Linked DNA regions of Homo sapiens: region 2 is linked to region 1. The links come from fine-mapping of genetic effects on gene expression. A gene starts in region 1. The other region holds a variant in brackets. All regions are shown on one strand. Distances are from middle to middle.

Evidence for each region. PIP is the estimated chance that this variant, and not a neighbour inherited with it, causes the effect.
Region 2: its variant is fine-mapped to the expression of UBQLNL in whole blood (TOPMed, PIP 0.96).

What each region holds. Positions count from the first base shown.
Region 1 is chr11:5,515,393-5,518,188 of GRCh38, forward strand. UBQLNL (ubiquilin like) reads right to left here and starts at 1,307. Exons shown (of 1, transcript NM_145053.5): 1 at 1-1,307. The coding sequence starts at 1,049.
Region 2 is chr11:5,643,998-5,646,819 of GRCh38, forward strand. TRIM6-TRIM34 (TRIM6-TRIM34 readthrough) reads left to right here. Exons shown (of 14, transcript NM_001003819.4): 14 at 1-401. It overlaps TRIM34 (tripartite motif containing 34), which reads left to right. Exons shown (of 8, transcript NM_021616.6): 8 at 1-401. It also overlaps a transcript of TRIM5 not described here. Among named protein-coding and RNA genes, the nearest start is that of TRIM34, 20 kb to the left of the region's middle. The variant C/G (reference allele first, on the strand shown) is at 1,414.

The sequences.
Region 1 (2,796 bases):
TTAAGGGTGTCATTGGCTGAGGTGTTTGAAGAGAAACCACCAGAGCTATTATAGATGACTCGGGTTGCAGGATGCTGTGTGAGCTGGTCTTGTTGTTCCTGTGATGGTGGTGGAGGTGGGGGTGAAGACTGGACTTGTTCTAGCACTTGTCCTGCCAGGAGAGCTGTGAAAGGGTTTCCTCCAAAAGGATCTTGCATGCTGTTCAGCATTTGATCATTGATATCAGCATAGTTCTGACCCAGGGCATTATTCCCACCTGGCATTGTCTCTAAGCCCAGATATGGCTGTGGGTTCAGTGGATACTCAAGGTTTTGTGAAGGTTGTTGGATCTGCATTATCTCTTGGATCATAGCAAGGTTCCTGGCCAGCTCCAGAGTCTGCAATAGGATCTCAGAATTATCAAGAAGAAGGCGGGAAACTTCTGGGTTCTGCTGCATCAATTGTTGCGTGTCTAGATGTTCTGAAATGAACTGCCACATGAACTCCATGTTGGACAGAAGCCGCTGGATGCTAGGATTCTCCAGCATCTGTGCTTTGCACTCTGGGTGGCTCACTTCCAAGTTTTGGGTATGCACTTTGGGTGCATCAGACCCCACAAAGTGGGCCAGTTCCACTGGAGCTTGATTCATACCAGTTGGTTGGTGCACTCTGCTGCTGTTTCCTTTGGTGTTTCTGTCCCGGTGGCAGGGATCATTCGTTGGCAGGTCCCGGAAGGAATGGGCTAGAGATCTGGAGCCCTGCTTGGACTTGATGACCAAGTAGATGGTGTGGCCATCCATGATGCCCCTCTGGCTCAGTGTGTCATGGTCTTTGAGAAGGCAACCCATGAAGACCAGCACTAGTTGGTCCATCTGGCATTGGAAGTGAGCCAATAGCATCTCCTTGAACTGCCTTACCGAGATGTCATCAGCTACCATAAAGTCTTTCTGGTTGCCTGCAGTCTTCACTATCACTCGAGTGGCACTTGAAGAGATATTTTTGTCTGCCAGCAGACCTGATGGACATCCACTCTGGGACATCCTGGATGTTCGAGAGATGGCATGCCACATGGGCTTTAGTGGGTGGGCAGATGGGGAGCAGGTGGAAGCTGGGGCAGAAAGGGTGAGGGCAGACAAATGTTTCTGCTGGCCTTTGTCTCAGGTATTGTGCTCTCAGGCCACAGGATAGTTTCCTTGTTGCCCTAAAAGGGATGAGTGACCAGACTGGGGCCAGATATTTTGTGATGTTGTGCCCTCACCCCAGTTCTCCAGATGTGGCCCAGCTGAGGCCTGGCATAGCTACTGATTCATAATTCACCCATGGTGGACAAAGTGGTGATGACTTCTCCTAGGGCTACCCCTCCTCCTACCCCACCCACCAGGGGCATGAATCCTCAGAAAAGGGATATTGTGATGTCAACTCTATCCTCGCAGTCACCCTGGGCCAGCTGGGGAAGGAGGACATATTTAGGGGTCCAGGGCTCTACAATAAAATAAAATAATTTTCCAGAAAACAGGGACAAAGTTCTCTGGATGGAACTAGTAAGAAAACAAAAAAGTAAATAAAAACCATATTTTTAAATGTGGGATGTGTGTTTCCGTGTGATACTGTGTGTATGTTCCTTATAGGGATGTTAGACTTGTATGAAAAGTTGGGTCTACTGAAGCCATAGATAAAGCCACATTCCTATAAGAATGCAGTCTCTCCCATAGGAAGGAGCGCATTAATTTTTTTAATGATCTGGAAATTTGGGTCTTATATAGAGTCTAGATTTTGGGATTCTATATTTAATTGTGCTCCCATGTGGTGGGGAAAATTTTCCTCTGTCCTAGGAAGCAGGAGTAGGGCTAACCAGGAAGGCTCTTCATAGGCACATGCCAAACTAAATGTGAATTAGCTCTTTTTTATAATATGCCTTTTATTCACATATCACTTGGTCTCTTCTACATGTCAATATAACAGAAGTTTTAGAATGATTTGTTTCAATGTCCTAACCCACTCTTGTGTGCCCACCTTTATGTCAAAGCATTAAGGGGGAATGTCGTCTGTAAATCAAGAGGTGGGAGAGGAGGTGGTTAGTAGTAAAATTCTTAAGGGGACAAATACAGGCAACTAAAAAGCTGGATTCTTGGTCCCATGTAAATTTGGAGAATTGTGTTTGGTTTTTATTTAGATGCAGATGGAAATAATTATTTATATGAGTGAGAGTGTACATGTCTTATCGAATGTATATATGAAATTGTATGCATATTCTGTGTTACTAGGAAGCCTTCAGGGTCTGGATTTTATATATTCCATCCACCTGCCTGGAGAGGGAGGAGCACCACACAGATAGCTAAGGAACAAGCAAAAAGCTCGAGCCCATATGTTCCCAGTGTGTTGAAGACAAGCAAAGGGATGATAGGCCGTTGGCCAGGAGACCTTCTGCTATCAAACCAATGATTCTTTATTGAGAATATCTAGACCCCCAGCACCATCCATGTCAGATCCTCATCATGCTATAAGGCCAGTTGCTAACTTACTACAGCAAGACTCAGGCCTATTCTCTTGCAATTGCACTCAAAAGTGAGATCGATCCAGGACAATGAAAAATTGATTACCAGACCAAGATCTTGCCCCTTTTCTCCCCAGGGACCTCACAGGAAGGTGGAGATAAGAAAGGGAACTTTCATATCCTACTCTAATGACCAGCTGCCCTGCAGCTTCTGCACTGGAATCAGGTGTTCCCAACCTGAGATTGACAATTCTAGATCACAGAACTCTTGAGTTCCGGGAGCTGGATTTATGAAAAAAGGAATATGAGATGCCAAAGCATCA
Region 2 (2,822 bases), 130 kb after region 1:
AAGAGGCCCAAAGCCTGTTAGCCACCATCCATGCTACCTAGGTAGTCCATAGGAACCACCCCCATGACCACCACCAACATCAACTAAAGGTTCTTGGAGGGTATGTCAGTGTGTTGCTCAGGATACCCCAGGTACATCAAGGAATCAAGGAGAGGAAAATATGAGCAATATGTGTATTCAGAGTGAAGATTTTATGTCCAGAGTATTTGAGCTCAAACCTTGCCTGTTGTTTTCTAATCATGATGAATACTTTCTCAGTTTCTTTTTCCTGAAATATAAATTGGGATTTAAGACTGTACCTAACTATTAAGATCACTGTGTAAAACTAAGTGTCTCTAAATGTAATGCATCGATTTAGTGTCTGGAACATAATAAATATTTGCTCTCATGATTGCTAAAAAGTGTGAGCTGTAGTAATGTCCTGTGCAATAGTTTTGTGGCCTTCAGAGGAATAGTAGTTGATTTTACTGAAGTCTCATTTTTCAAGTTCCCAGACTCCACTGTTAAGACCACTCCAATTTTAGTTTTGTTTTATAGAACTTTTTATACTGAGAGTGGGACTGTTTTTTTTCTTTTTTATTGTACATATTTAAGATATATATACTATGATGTTTTGATACACACTTACATGGTAAAGTGATTACTACAGCCAAGTAAATTATACATCCACTGTATCATATAGTTACCGTGTGTCGGGGGGGTGGTGGTTAGTGCATTTAAAATCTTTCTTAGCAAATTCCCAGTAGACAATACAATATTAACTAGAATCCTTGAAATAGTTGGGATTTTTGTCCTGCCCAAATCTCATGTTGAAATGTAATCCCCAGTGTTGGAGGTGGGGCCTGGTGGGAGGTGATTGGATCATGGGGGCCTCATGGAGGGCCTCGCACCATCCCCATGGTAATGAATACATTCTTGCTGTGAGTTCTTGGGAGATCTGGTTATTTAAGAGTGTGGCACTTCCTCCTGTCTCTGTATTGTTCCCACTCTTGCCAGAGATGTTCCTGTTCCTGCTAATGTTAGGATAAAAAAGTGATTATATTTGACAAAAAAAATTTAAGTTAGTACAACAATAAAAAAGTACGATAGGCTGGGTGCCTTGGCTCATGCCGGTAATCCCAGCCAGCACTTTGGGATCCCAGCCAGCACTTTGGGAGGCCGAGAAGAGAGGATCACGTGAGGTCAGGAGTTCAAGACTGGCCTGGCCAAAATTGCAAAACCCTGTCTCTACTAAAAATACAAAAATTAGCTGGATGTGGTGGCGAGCCCCTGTAATCCCACCTACTTGGGAGGCTGAGGCATGAGAATCGCTTGAACCTGGGAGGCGGAGGTTGCAGTGAGCTGAGATTGCACCACTGCACTCCAGCCTGGGCAACAAGAGCAAAACTCTGTCTCAAAAAAAAAAAAAAAAAA[C/G]TGTGAAAAAAGTGGTTTGTTATATAGATCACCAAAAAATTATGAAACATTGTCATACAATTCAATGCTAGGTTTTAAATCTCTGTAAAATGAATAGGTTAAAATTAACAATCTTACAATCAGGAAGAAGCAGAAAATTCCGTAGAACCACAATAATAAAATGATGTAAACATTATAAAATTATATGTGTTCAAGTGCATAGAATGAGAGTACTTTTGAAGGTCTAATGTTTTGGGTCAGTTCTACAATCAGGAAGAAAAAAAGACAGGCCTACCTTTCCTTCTTCAGAAGAGAGTGGGGACAGAGGAGATTTGATGAGGGTCAAGTCTAGGAAAAGCTTCACTTTTGCTCATTGTATGTTGATTCTCTGGATACATTCCCACCTGTTCTTTGCCCTGATGATGAGACTTTTACCCAGATGTGACAACTGCTCTCTTCATCTCATCTAGTCTTCTGGAAAAAAAAAAAAAATATATATATATATATCTATATATAGATATATATAGATATATATATAGATATATAAAACATGTATATTAAATGTATATTAATATGTGTATGTATTTATAACATATGTGTAATTTATAATTATATATAATACATATATACATATGTATAGTACACATAAATATATTAGATTATATATGTATAATACATATAAATGTATACATTTTAATATACATGTATATTATATAAATATACATATACACACGTACACACACACATATCCCCAAATACACCAACCACCCTCATGTTTCTTCCCAGAATTCCAACCACCAGAGGCACAGCTTTTTTGGAAATATCATTTTACCACAGTAGCACTGGATGTCTGTCCACTCTGAAATGATAAAAATTCATAATATTGACTATATGCAAAGGAGGCAGCACTGACGTCAATTTTTTCTCCAGAACAGAGAAAGAGGAGGGGACTATGTTAGGGCAATGAATTTGCGAATAATAGCATGAAACAGTCTCTTGGTTATTCTCCATCAAATATGACCACATCATCAGCACACAATGTCCATCCTCCCTTATCTCTTCCATCTACGCCTAGAAACTGCTCTCTTCCCTGTCTAGCACCTGCCACCACTAGACTACTGCAGATCTAGTTGTTCTAGCTCTTCTCATCTTTACACGCTTGAAGCATTCCTCTTAGATGAGAAGCTCAACACACTTCCCTTTATTCTTTGGGAAACGTTTTTAGCTTAAGTCAAATTCTCACCCCTAGGAATGAAAAAAAATTGACTCCCAAACCTCTGACTTTGTAACCCTTGGACACCACTGATTTCCTATCATTTCACCCCACTGATGTACTTGAACTCTGTTCCCTGAGAAGGGAGAGGGCAGACCCTTGACCCTAGAACCAGACAAAATGTACTCGTGTCCACTTTCTCCCTTACTCTCTGTAT